2 linked regions of the Homo sapiens genome follow. The main gene of each other region encodes a partner of the protein of the gene in region 2 in a complex. Each region holds a gene or a part of one and is shown on either strand. Other genes may lie near its edges.

What was found. The genes of interacting proteins can lie anywhere in the genome.
Region 1: MED23 (region 2) and MED25 share a complex: the UniProt entries of both Homo sapiens proteins name them as parts of the mediator complex.

What each region holds. Positions count from the first base shown.
Region 1 is NC_000019.10:49,821,280-49,828,305, reverse strand, and holds part of MED25 (mediator of RNA polymerase II transcription subunit 25), read right to left. Parts: intron 1-7,026. UniProt on the Homo sapiens protein: Component of the Mediator complex, a coactivator involved in the regulated transcription of nearly all RNA polymerase II-dependent genes.
Region 2 is NC_000006.12:131,625,224-131,632,718, reverse strand, and holds the start of MED23 (mediator of RNA polymerase II transcription subunit 23), read left to right. Parts: upstream 1-4,476; 5' UTR 4,477-4,669; coding exon 4,670-4,708; intron 4,709-5,046; coding exon 5,047-5,078; intron 5,079-5,235; coding exon 5,236-5,323; intron 5,324-7,495. UniProt on the Homo sapiens protein: Required for transcriptional activation subsequent to the assembly of the pre-initiation complex. Component of the Mediator complex, a coactivator involved in the regulated transcription of nearly all RNA polymerase II-dependent genes.

The sequences.
Region 1 (7,026 bases), on a different chromosome or scaffold from region 2:
CCAATCCCTGGTGCTAGCACAGCACCAGTCCCAGACAGGACAGGGGACATTTGCTGTCTGTGTTTTTTTTTTTTTTTGAGATGGAGTCTCGCTCTGTCGCCCAGGCTGGAATGCAGTGGCATGATCTCAGTTCACTGCAAGCTCCGCTTCCTGGGTTCATGCCATTCTCCTGCCTCAGTCTCCCGAGTAGCTGGGACTACAGGTGCCTGCCACCACACCTGGCTAATTTTTTGTATTTTTAGTAGAGACGGGATTTCACCATGTTAGCCAGGATGGTCTCCATCTCCTGACCTCATGATCCACTTGCCTCAGCCTCCCAAAGTGCTGGGATTGCAGGAGTGAGCCACCACACCCGGCCGACATTTGTTGTCTTTAATCATGAGGACTGGGAGGGAATGGGAAAGGGCTGGGGACCCCAAGCCTAGGATCCTGTGCTGACTCCAACCCTGGAGTGACTGACTCCATGCCCAGCCTCCTGCTGTCCCCTCCCCTCTCTGGGCTGTCTGCTCCAAATCAGTCCTGGCCCCACTTCACCTTCCCAGCCAGAGACGGGGGCCTCCTCTGTCCTCCTAGTCTTATGGGTTCAAGTGTGCCCCCTTCAAAAAGACAGGTTGAGGTCCTAAGCCCCAGTACCTCAGAAGGTGACCTAATTTGGAAAGATCTTTACACAGGTAATCGAGTTAAATTGCGGGCCCTAATCCACTATGGCTGGTGTCTGTGAAAAGGAGAAACGTGGACACGGACACACACACAGAGGGAAGACACAAGGACACAGAGAGACACAGGGAGAGGCCATGTGAGGACGGGTGATGCAGCCTCAGCAGGCACCAGGAAAGGCAGAAGGGCCCTTCCCCTGTAAGATTTCAGAGACAGCCTGGCCCTACCACCTGGATTTTGGACTTCCAGCCTCCAGAACCCTGAGACATCAATTTCCATTCTTCTGGCCAGTTTCTCATACTTTGCTACGGCAGCCTGGGAAACTAACACACACAGACTCTCGTTTCTCCTCCGCCTGATCTGCAGTCGCGTCGCAGCATCCGTCCCACATGGGTTGTGGCCCGGGGATGGCCTCTCCTCAAGGGCAGCTGTGGTTGCCACCATTATTCCGGTCACGTGGTCGTGAGAGGCTGACCTTTGCTGCAGGGGACGTGTGTGGAGACCGAGCACCCCTCTGAGGGTCTTGAGGGCCCTGTCCCCCTGAAGTGTGGTCTCTGATCCTACCTCTCCCACAGGCGGGGATGGGGTCTGAGTCCTCTCTTACCCCCAGGCTTGCCCACCACAGCGGGGCACATGTGAGGCCTCAGGAAATGTAGGCTAAGTGAATGAACGTCTACAGGCCCAACCGTGTCCATCAAGACTGGAACCAACCCAGGCCCTCGGCCCGGCATCGGCCCAGCATCCGAGGCCTCCGAGTCCTGCACCCCGTCCATCTCTCCTGCTCCATGCCCGCACCTATAGGTCCTCTCAACTGACAAAGCCCAGACATCCAGGTCTCTGCATGTGCTGGAACACACCCATTCCGGCCCGGATGGAATCCAGCTAAACTACGACACCCATCCTGGTGTGCCCTCCTATAGGAAGCCTTCCCTACATGCCACCTAATTTTACGGCCTGCCCTTAGTCACATCATAGATCACCCGATACTGCAGCTGTCAAGCTTCTCTCCGCACCCTGTGCAGCCCTCCAAGAGAGACACCAAGGCGTCTGACCCTAGGTCACACAAGGCCTAGGAACCATCTGCTGAGTACTCAGTGCACTGGTGGCCTGGCAGGGCCATGCAGCGGGGCTCTCCGCTTCCTGCCTGAGTTCTCGCACTGATTTCCTTCCAGTCCCACTCGGCCCGGCCAGTGAGCACACTGAGCCCCTGAGCCTTCTTCCTGCTCTCAGGGCACTCGGGCGCTGCTCCCAACCCACCACACACTTCCCAGCCCTCCTCTTCCTAGCCATCAAAACAGCTTTTGTTTTTGAGACGGAGTCTCGCTCTGTCTCCCAGGCTGGAGGGCAGAGGCACATCTCCGCTCACTGCAAGCTCCGCCTCCCGGATTCACGCCATTCTCCTGCCTCAGCCTCCCTCGTAGCTGGGACCACAGGTGCCCGCCACCACGCCCGGCTAATTTTTTTAATTTTTAAGTAGAGACGGGGTTTCACGGTGTTATCCGGGATGGTCTCGAACTCCTGACCTTATGATCCACCCGCCTCGGCCTCCCAAAGTGCTGGGATTACAGGCGTGAGCCACTGTGCCCGGCATCAAGACAGCTTTGCACGCAGAAACTTCAACTGTGTGCAAAGAGTTGGGGTGAACCAACTCTGGACCCAGCTGTTCTGCTACAGGTGAAATTAAGCCAATATTTTCCTGGGCCTTTCTGGGACTCGAGCCAAAACCACCCTGGCTGGGGATGGGGGGATGGGGGAATGGGGAGCTAGTGCTTCATGCATATGGGGTGTCCTCTTTGGGGTGATAAATTTTTTTTTTTGAGATGGAGTTTCGCTCTTGTTGCCCAGGCTGGAGTGCAATGGCACGATCTCAGCTCACCACTACCTTCGACTTCTGGGTTCAAGTGATTCTCCTGCCTCAGCCTCCCGAGTAGCTGGGATTACAGGCATGCGGCACCACGCCCAGCTAATTTTGTATTTTTAGTAGAGACAGGGTTTCTCCATGTTGGTCGGGCTGGTCTCGAACTCCCGACCTCAGGTGATCCGCCTCCTCACCCTCCCAAAGTGCTGGAATTACAGGCATGACCCTGTAAAACAGTTGGAAGTGACTGGGTGCAATGGCTTATGCCTGTAATCCCAGCACTTTGGGAGGCCGAGGTGGGCGGATCACTTGAGGTCAGGAGTTCAAGACCAACCTGGCCAAAGTGAAACCCTATCTCTACTAAAAATACAAAAACCAGCCAGACATGGTGGTGGGTACGTGTAATCCCAGCTACTCGGGAGGCTGAGGCAGGAGAATCACTTGAACCTCGGGGGCAGAGGTTGTAGTGAGCTGAGATCATGCCACTGCACTCCAGCCTGGGAGAGAGAGAGAGACTCCATCTCAAACAAAACAAAACAAAACAAAACCCTTATGAGGAAAAGTGTGATAAACTAACCAGTTTGAGATGCTAAAACTTGCGTTTCTCTTATTGAACACTAAGTACAAGTCATGTGCTACAAGCTCAAAGGGCGACATGTAATAAACATTTTGTCAAAGAAATGTGGAAAACTTGAACAGAAGAAGCACTATGGCTGGCTGCAAAATATGGCTAAAATATCAAGTTTATGATAAATTCCAAATAAACCCCTTGATATGGCAGACACAAAATAAAAATAAAAGCCCCCTAGGTGACACAAGTGGGCTCTGACTTGGTGTTCCCAAGTCCTCTAACTTACTCCCATTTGTTCTACCCAGTATCATTCCCCGGGGTCTCTGCTGCCCGCTTTCATCGGCTAACAGGTGCCTGGAGCCCCAGGAGGTCAAAATGAGTGAATGTTAACAGCATCCGGCCATGACCAAGGGCTCCCTACACACGGCCTGTCACCCAGGCAAACTAGTTCCATGAGGGCCAGGACCTTGCCTATCTCATGCCCACTAACTCCTTGGTGCCCAGGACGATTTGTTCCACAAACATTTGTTGAATTAATGAGTGAACATATGAATGAACAACTGAGTTGTCATAATGTTATGGGAAACACACTGGGTCTATTTTCCTTCCACCTCTTTTTTTTTTTTTTTTTTCCCGAGACAGGGTCTCGCTCTTTCACCCAGGCTGGAGTGCGGTGGCACAATCTCGGCTCACTGCAACCTCTGCCTCCCAGTCTCAGTTGATCCTCCTACCTCAGCCTCCTGAGTAGCTGGGACTACAGGTGTGCACCACCATGCCTGGTTAATTTTTTCTATTTATTTGTTGTTTTTGTATTACATACTAATTCATTTATTCAGCCAGTCTCCTGAAGCCCCGTGGGTGCCAAGCCCCAGCTGGAAGCAAATGGCAGAAGCACCCAGGGACCTGGACATTCACAGTCCAGAGGTGTGGGGCTGTGACAGGTCATGGAGGCAGAGGAGGAAGCATCTGGCTGCAAGAATCGGGAAGGTTTCCCAGGGTATAAGACACCTGAGCTGGGTCTGGAAGGCTATGCAGTGTCTTCCAGGGTGGTTAGTATTAAATGCATTCTGGACATTCATTCTACAGAATTTACCCGAGGCCTCCTGTGTACCAGGCCCTGTGCTGGCTGCCAGGCACTTGAGGAGCATCAGACTTGGACCTGGGCCTCAAGAAGTCTCCATTTAACATCACTCAAGACTGTCTTACCGGTCTCTCCCAGTGGTCTCAAATGGAATACATTTTGCGCCCCCTTCCCAGAGGATATTTTATAATGCCTGGAGACATTTTTGGTTGTCACACCTTTGGGAGGGGGCTACCGGCATCTAGTGAGTAGAGGCCAAGGATGATGTTAAACATCCTACAATACCCAGGACGGCCCCCACTACAAGGAATGACTGTGTCCACAGTGTCACTAGGGCCAAGGATGAGAAACCCTGCTCTGTGTTACCTACGAATTCCAGCTACCGCGAAGGGGAAGCTTCTGTGTCACCTTTTCACTATATGTCCTGCACCCAGCACTTGCACGCACATACTGGAACAAAGCAGATACTCAACAAACACCTGCTGCAGAAGCATACAGAGGTAACGGCCGCTACGAACAGGTGTTGTTTAATGAACCTTGACTGCAGACCAGGCCCTAAGCGACACACAGCAAGCAACTTAGCTCCTGTGATCTTCTAACAACACGGAGATACACGCGACCATTATCCATTTGCAAACCAGGAGAGTGAGGCACAAAATCCTAGGAAACACTTACACGGCACTTAATACATGCCAGGCACTGTATTAAACATCATCAACTAACTTAATTCTCCAAACATCGCTGTGAGGTTGCGGTACCCAGCCCCCAATACAGCACCCAGCAATCCAGCCTCTTGCTATTTACACACTGGGTAGTCTCCTCCTACACTGAACGGGATAGGCTTATACTGCACACCAAATGCAGTATGGCAGAAGTGGACTTGGCACCGCAGCTCAGGCCTGTGATCTCAGCACTCCAGCACTTAGGGAGGTCAAGGCAGGAGGATCGCTTGAGGCCAGGAGTTCAAGACCAGTCTGAGCAACACAGCAAGACCTCATCTCTACAAGAATTAAAATAAAGAAATCAGCCATGCATGGTGGTGCCCACCTGCAGTCCTAGGTACTCAGGAGGCTGAGGTGGGAGGATCACTTGAGCCCGAGAGGTCGAGGCTGCAGCAAGCTATGATCCCACCACTGCACTCCAATCTGGGCAACAGAGCAAGACCCTGTCTCAGGTTAAAAAACAGAATGTAGGCCAGGCGCGGTGGCTCACGCCTGTAATCCCAGCACTTTGGGAGGCCGAGGCGGGTGGATCACAAGGTCAGGAGACCGAGACCATCCCGGCTAACACAGTGAAACCCTGTCTCTACTAAAAATACAAAAAATTAGCTGGGTGTGGTGGCGGGCACCTGTAGTCCCAGCTACTCAGGAGGCTGAGGCAGGAGAATGGCGTGAACTCGGGAGGCGGAGCTTGCAGTGAGCTGAGATCGCACCACTGCACTTCAGCCTGGACAACAGAGCGAGACTCTGTCTCAAAAAAAAAAAAAAAAAAAAAAAAAGAATGTAACAGAAATAATGACATGACGTGTAACTTCCAAGACTTGATTACAAAGAGCCTAGTGGGGCCTCTGGGTGCAGCATCTCATGCCTCTAATCCCAGCACTTAGGGACACTGAAGTGGAGGATCACTTGAGACCAGGAGTTCAAAACCAGCCTGGGCAACATTGCAGGACCTTGTCTCCACAAAAAAAACAATTTTTTTTTGAGACAGGGTCTCAGTCAGTCAGTCACCCAAGCTGGAGCGCAGTGGTGCGATCTCTCCACCTCCTGGCTTGAAGTGATTCTCCTGCCTCAGCCTCCTGAGTAGCTAGGATTACAAGGCACATGCCACCACACCTGATTAATTTTTGTATGGTTTTTTTTTTTTTTTTTTTTTTGAGACAGAGTCTTGCTCTGTTGCCCAGGCTGGAGTGCAGTGGTGCAATCTTGGCTCACTGCAAACTCCGCCTCCTGGGTTCACGCCATTCTCCTGCCTCAGCCTCCCGAGTAGCTGGGACTGCAGGTGCCTGCCACCGCGCCCGGTTAAATTTTTGTATTTTTAGTAGAGACGGGGTTTCACCGTGTTAGCCAGGATGGTCTCCATCTCCTGACCTCATCATCCACCCGCCTCAGCCTCCCAAAGTGCTGGGATTACAGGCGTGAGCCACCACGCCTGCCCAATTTTTGTATTTTTTGTAGAGACGGGGTTTCACCATGTTGGCCAGGCTGGTCTCGAACTCCTGACCTCAGGTGATTCGCCCGCCTTGGCCTCCCAAAGTGCTGGGATTACAGGGATGAGCCACCGTGCCCCGCCACTACAAAATTTTTTTTTTTTTTTTTTTTTGAGACAGAATTTCACTCTTGTTGCCCAGGCTGGAGTGCAATGGTGTGATCTCGGCTCACTGCAACCTCCACCTCCCAGGTTCAAGCAATTCTCCTGCCTCAGCCTCCCAAGAGCTGGGATTACAGGCATGCGCCACCATGCCCAGCTAAGGCCTGTAATTTCAGCACTCCAGCACTTAGGGAGGTCAAGGCAGGATGATTGCTTGTATTTTTAGTAGAGGCAGGGTTTCACCATGTTGGACAGGCTGGTCTCGAACTCCTGACCTCAGGTGATCCACCTGCCCCAGCCTCCCAAAGTGCTGGGATTACAGGCGTGAGCCACCACGCCCGACCTACAAAAATATTTTTAAGAAATCAGCCAGGTGTGCTGGCATTTGGCTACCGTCCCTGCTACTCCAGCTACTCGGGAAGCTGAGATGGGAGGATCGCTTGAGCTTGAGCCCAGGAGGTCGAGGCTGCAGTGAGCCGTGACTGAGCCACTGCACTCCAGCCTGCGTGACAGAGTGAGACCCTTCCTCAAAAACAAGAGAGGCCTGGG
Region 2 (7,495 bases):
TATGATAATAGGGACACATCCTAGTCCTTCAGGTCCTAAGATGAATAAACCTCAAGGAATCTACCTATGTATAATACAAGTAGGTATAGTGAAGATGGTTGGCATTGCCAAGTTGCTAGCCATATTTTTGGCTATAACAATTTCTCTAACTGAACTCTAAACCCCAACCTCTTTTGAGTCTTTCAAGTTCTAGAAACTTATTCCTGGCTGGATGCAGTGGCTCACACCTGTAATCCCAGCACTTTGGGAGGCTGAGGCAGGAGGATCACTTATGTCAGTTTAAGACCCACCAGGGCAACATAGTGAGACCCTGTCTCTACAAAAAATGAAAAATAAAAAATTATCCAGGAGTTATGGTGCATGCCTGTAGTCCTAGCTACTCGGGAGGCTGAGGTGGGAGAATATGGGGAGGATTGCTTGAGCCCAGGAGTTTGGGGCTGTAGTGAGCTATGATGGCACCACTGCATTCCAGCATGAGCAGCAGAGTAAGACCATCATCTCAAAAAAGAAAGAAAAAAAGAAAGAAAGAAACTTAACAGTTCACCTGATCAATAGACACAAGCCAAAACCACACCTTCCATGCAAGTTAGACTTTGGAATAGACTGCCTGTGTCACTTAAATCTGAACCTACACTTTCTAAGTTAACTGGACCTTGAAAGTTTGCCTATTCTTTTCTTCTTTAACTTTAGAACAATCTGTACCTTCTCTTCTTTTCTTCTTCAACTTCAGAACAACCTGTACCTTCTTGGTTCTGAAACTTTACTCTGAACATTAAAATGTTCAGAGTAATTTGTAAGTAAGTTAATGGCTTAGAACGCTTGCATTCTGAGAGGCAGCTACCATTACATCACCCATCAATGTAAACCGTAAACATTCCTCATGTTACAGAAGGTCTCAGTGTCCACAGAATTCTGGCAACAAATGGGTTGTTGTTGTCTCAGAAAAGCCCTAGGGGCCTGCCAACATCAACTTCTTTGTCTCAGGAACCTGCCCTTCCTGGTTCCAGTGCTAGATCTTGGGTGATAGGTGGACAAGCTAGACTGGGAGAGCCCAGAGAAACTAATCGCACTGAGGAGGGTGGTAGAGGTGAGGCGGATGCTAGGCTCAGGTCCAACAGCAAAAGGAAGAAGGAGTCCACAAAGGAAGGGAGACCTCACATAATAACATAATGCCAGAGATAGATGGGCAGGTGACTAACTTCAGGGAGGGCCAGTCATGAGGAAAAAGCAGAAAAACCTACAAGGAGATTGACAAGCACACAAAGCAATCAGAAAGCTAACCAGGTAGGCAGTTGGTATAGGAAGGACAGAAGCTAATCCTCAGCAAGTGGAGATCCAACACTGAAGCTGAATTGAGAACTGGCTGTCTTGGTGAGACTGATGTCAGCAGTGCCAAACCAGGTCTGAGAGGCAATGGTACACACCAGGAGACAAAGCAGACACCCAGCATGGAATAGAGAGCCCAGCTCTAGTCCTCCAAACAATGACTATGGCAAAGTAGAATCAATGGTCACAGTTTGATACCGCTGTTTGCCAGTACCTATGTGTGTGAAAAGATATTTTCTGACTAAATAAGTAAAAATCTCATTACTGATCAGCACAATGAACATCTATAATCAATTTGGAGATGAGAAACCTGATGTGATGACTCCTGTGGTGTAGCAATTGTTTTCTACTGAACGATCAGCATTCCTAAGGTTGTCTCTGGTTCATGGAAGACTGTTTCTCTTACTTTGTCTCAAGTACAGAAATATTCCCTAGTAGTGTTAGATTTCTAGGAGCCCTTTCTTGTTCATTTTGAAACTCAGAAATCTTTGGATTTCCAAACATTTTCCAGGTTTTCATAGGCTCTTCTCATTTTTAGTGTACTCATGAGGGCCTCATTTATGACTCAAATTCTAGAGATGTCTCCAGAAGAGACATTATAAAACAACCATGCTGCCTGGGCTCTCCGAGGTAGAGCTCAGTGTCACAGTGCTCCCACGGTGCCCATCCATGAAGCAGAAGGTACAGGCCACGTACTGTTTACATCTCTGAAACCTGGCATGAACCAAGTTATTTCCCCAAACCTTTAAACTCCTCTCTGCCGTGTCAACTCCGTGGTGGCAGGAACTAGGTCAGTTTGAGCTTACAGTCTTGTTCTAGTGTCTAGCACAGTGGCCAACACCTAGAAGACATTCAATGAACACTTGCTGAATAAATTTTGTAACGGTTTCAGAAATAACATTAGAAGTATAAGCTACCACATACATAAATGTCCAGTGAACCCAACTGTTATAAATTATAATAACTTTACTAGGTATAACTTTGTAGGTGTTCCAAATCTTTCTCTACATCCAGCATTCCAGAAATAGCTATTACCTCAGAGGAAGTCTTGTCCATAAAATAAAGGCACTTCAGATGTTTTTATTCTACCCAAAGTAATGAATAATGACTGAGCACCACCAAGTACCAGACTTTATGCCAGGTGTTAGGAAATGCAGGCATGTTTAATTTCTGTATCTACTCTAAAGAGCTTTAGTCTAGTTGAAGAAGTAGACATTTTAAACCATAATATAGTGTAATCTGTGCAATACTAGTAGTGCTAATAAAGTGCCAGGAGGAAAGAGGAAGAAATACAAATTTTTCTACAGAAAGGGATTTAGAAAGATATCTACGTGAGTTTGCTCAGACTGCTGTGAATAGCATACTATAAACTGGGGTGATTCGAGTCTCAGCAAACTGAACGCTGAGAACTCAGGCTTCTTGTTCCTTTTGGCTGCAAGAAGGTTGGCAGCCAGTCAGAACTTTACCCACTTGTAAGAGATCAGGCTTCTTGTTCCTTTTGGCTGCAAGAAGGTTGGCAGCCAGTCAGAACTTTACCCACTTGTAAGAGATTAGATGTATCTTCCTTGGTGATTCAGACCAGCCTAAGGGGAAAGACCTGATGATACCAACTTTGGGGATTCTCCAAGAAACAATGTCCCCAGAACACACTATAAAGATGCTCAAAGTTGATAAGCCCTGCCCAGCTGCTCAGAGTTTCCAGTTGGCTCTTTAGTCCCCCACTCTAAATCCTGATAGGACAAGGATGGAACAAGAAGCCTGAATTCTCAGCTTTCAGTTTGCTCAGACTCAAATTACCCCCCAGTTTATAGTATGCTGTTCACAGCAATCTAAGCAAACTCCCCTAGGTATCTTTCTAAATTCCTTTCTGTAGAAAAATTTGTATTTCCTCCTTTTCTCCCTGGCACTTTATTAGCATCACTAGTATTGCACATATCACACTCTATTATGGTTTAAAATGTCTATGTCTTCAACTAAGCTAAAGCTCTTTAGAGTAGATACATGGGCCCTAACCTGACTGATGTCCTTCTAGGAAGAGAAAATTACGACACAGACATGTACAAAGGGAAGACCATGTGAAGACACAAGGAGAAGAAGGTCATCTACAAGCCAAGGACAGAGGCCTCTATAGAAACTAACCCTATCAACCTCAACCTCAGACTTCCAGCCTCCAGAATTACAAGAAAAGAAATTTCTGTTGTTTAAGCCACCCAGTCTGTGGTATTTTGTTATGGCAACCCTAGCAAACAATACCCTAAGCCTAACTTTTCAAGTTTTTCTCCAGCAGGAAATCTGAATTATTTCTTTTCAGCTTTTAGTAGCTATTGTGTGGACAACATGGTTGCATGTGCATATTAAAGTTGTTAGAAAACTAAATTTATGCCAGGTCAGACACTTGTATAACAAAACCATGAATGGGGAGTCATCAGCTCATCACTTAGCAGCTACAAAGGAGTAGTTCATGCTTAGCAGTTTGTGGCATTTCACAACCGTCAAAGAAGTGAAAGGCCTTTGGATGTCTATGACTCTCATCAACAATTTTCTTTATGAGGCAAAGAAAGCTGATCATTCAAGACATAACAGATGTTTTAGGGGTTGGTGATGATGGTGGCATATGAAGAAAAACACATACTCTCAACAATATAATAGCAAATAGAATCTAGCAATATATTAAAAAGGATAATATATTATGACCAAGTAGCATTTATACCATAGAAGCAAAATTGGTTTGGCATTCAAAAGTCAATCAATTACATTTGCACTGAGGTTATCATAGCTGAGAAGACACCGTCTCTGTGGCTTCAGCTCCTGGCTGCAGGCCGCTGATGGAGGTCCAGAAGGTCAGCTGCTCACAGACATCAACTTGGTGTCGGCTGCGGCTCCAGCATTTTCCGCAGGCTGCAGCTTCTGGGTTCCAAACTTTTCATTTCTCAGTCTGCAAGCGGGTTAGCCCCGAACAGGAAGCAACTCCTTCTCCAGCCGGGAGGTGGCGGCCTGCGGTCGACGATGCCTCCGGGGTCCTTGGGCTCAAGGTTCCGTTTGGGGGCGCTCTCGTCCGGCTTGCGGGCCGCCCTTCTCCACAGACGGAACCTTCTGGTGGCGCCGCTGGTTTCTGCGGGGTTTGCAAACGGCGCGTACCGGGCCCTTCCCGTCTTCCGTACAGGTTCCTGCTGTTGGCTGGGCTCGGGAGGGAACGCTCCAGGTAAAGCGCTGGGGGAGGAAGCGACGCCGAGGAGCTACGGTTTCCTCCAGAGGTCTCCGCCCCTCTGCCCCTATATTCCCAGAGCTCGAGTCTGATCCGGGCCTTGCCGGGCACCCTGGAAAGGCGGGGGTGATAGTACAGATGGAGACGCAACTGCAGAGCATTTTCGAAGAGGTGGTGGTGAGTGCAGCTGCCGGCCATCCAGGACTACGGCTTGGGGACGGGGAGACGCGGGGGCAGCCGACCAAGGAAACTGGCCTGGGCAACCTCCTCTCACGCCTCCCTTTTTATTCCCTTGTTTTGACACCGAGGTTGTATGCGGGGAAGTTTAGTGATTCTCAAACTGCTGTCAAGTTCATTGTATCCTTTGAAATCGATACAGTGACAGGCCAGACAGGTATTGATAGTTTCAGAGCTGATTAAGGTGACTTGCCCTGTGTTACATTGTAATACTTGGCTAAGGGAGGCGCCTTTTTAAAATTAACATTGTTTACATTTTGTTTTTTTTTTTTTTACAGAAAACGGAAGTTATAGAAGAGGCTTTTCCTGGGTGAGTGTATGCGTGGCAGAGTTTTGTGTTTTTATGTGATTGTGTCTGTCAGATTTTACTTAGTTTCGTGTTGGAAGGTTATAAGATCCACTATTCTGATTGTGTGTAATTACCTTTTTAAAACGAATGACAAATAATGTAATTTTTATTTTTTTAGCATGTTTATGGATACTCCTGAAGATGAGAAAACAAAACTAATTAGCTGTTTGGGGGCCTTCAGACAGTTTTGGGGTGGTCTTTCTCAGGTGAGCGCTTCATTTTTAATACATTCAGCTGATGATTTTTGGCCTCTTCTTTTTTTTTTTTTTTTTCTTTTAACATTTACTTTCATGCTGCTCTTAAGATCTTCCTGAGAAGGGAGAAATAAAATTGTTATCATTTTTTATTCTGGCTTCCATTTGTTTTAATTTGTATATTTCAGTGGAAAACCTGTGTTGAGAAGTCAAGTTGATACTGCACAGTGTGAGATGTTTAAAAAAAAAAACCTCCCCTATGTTAGATTAATTGAGATCATTTTCATCCTATTCGGATTTATTTGGTACACTTGAAAACAGATATGTTAAGCTTTACTTGTCAAGGATACAAATTCCATTTTTCTGCTAAATAAAGGAATTGGCACAGCATTGATACAAAGATGCTACAATAGGAATACCAAGATTCTATAATAAGGATAGGAAAATATTATAGTAAAAATGAGGAGACAAACTGTAAAAGTAACAAAGAACAGCTACCAGAAAATGTATCCGTGAAAAAGACAAAAATGTGTCATCCTCGAAGAGCTCACATTGCAGTAGTGCCTTACCTTCTCATGGTACACTATAGGTAGGGAAATGAGAACTGTTTGCGTGTCAGCCACTGGTGATAAGATTTGCCACTCAGACATGGATCATATAATGCCAATACAGTCATGTTTTAACCTTTTTGTTTAGTTGTTTTCTAATAGGTAATACATTTATATGGTTCAAAATGCACAGGTATAAAAGGGTGGATCCAATAACTAGTCTCTTTCTCTTCTCTTACCTGTTATTTTTTCTGTCTGTAGCCAATATCCTCAGGTTATGTTTTCTTCTAGAAGTATTTTATGCATATAGAAACACTTTTATAGCATGATCATATACCATGTACACTGTTCATTAATTAGCACTTTTTTTCTCCTAATAATAATCTACAGGTAATTCCCTATCAGTCCAAGCGTTACTTGTTCCTTCCTTTCTTACTTTTTTTTTTAAATAGCAGCATAATATTCCATTGTATGGCTGTACCTTCCTCCTTTTAACCAATCTTCTACTGTCTTCTAAGTTTCTTCTTACTTTTTCTAATTTAACCAATGCTGTGATGAATAATATTATGCATGAAAAATAGGATAAATTCCTAGAAATAGTATTGCTGAGTCAAAAGCCTTATCAGTTTGTAATTTTTATAGAAATTATTAAATTTTCCATAAGGGTTATACTAGTTTATGCTTCCACCAGCAGTGTTTGAGATTATCTTTTTCTTTTCTTTTTTTTTTTTTTTTTTGGAGACAGAGTCTCACTCTGTCGCCCAGGCTAGAGTGCAGTGGCGTGATCTTGGCTCACTGCAACCTCTGCCTCTCGGGTTCACGCCGTTCTCCTGCCTCAGCCTCCCGAGTAGCTGGGACTACAGGCACCTGCTATCACGCCCGGCTCATTTTTTGTATTTTTAGTAGAGACGGGGTTTCATCGTGTTAGCCAGGTTGGTCTCGATCTCCCGACCTCATGATCTGCCCACCTCGGCCTCCCAAAGTGCTGGGATTACAGGCATGAGCCACCGCGCCCGGCTGAGAGTATCTTTTTCTTATAACCTCACAATAGAGTGTTAAGCTTTTTGATCTTTGCCAATCAAAAACATGAGAAATTTTATCTCAGTATAATTTTATTTTGCATTTCTCTCAGTGATGTTGAATATCTTTCCAAAATTTAAAAAAAAATTCATTAAACACTTTATGAATTATGATGTGGCCCTCTAATGGAGAGACCAGGAAGAAAATAGGTATTTCCAAATCATTGTTATATGTGCCACAATAGAAGTATGTATGAGAACAGTGGTTGTGGAGAGAAGCAGAACATTATAGGCTCTTTTTGGAGATAATCCTAGAAGACAAACTTTGATACGGGCACAACATTTTGACATCGTATTTAAAGTTTTGCCAGTCTAGAAATGTGACATGTCATTGGATTCATAATGGGCTCTTGTTTGGGATCTTAGGGATTGGATTCACACCTAATTCTCCTAAGCCTGATACATACTGATCCATAATGAATTTTACCCCCAGTGACAGTAATATTTATATATGCCATAAAGGGCACTGTTTACAATGCCTTACAACAATCTGTGTTAAGAGTTTTCTATTGACCGTTAATATGTTAACTAATTAATTACTACTTTTGAAGTTCCCA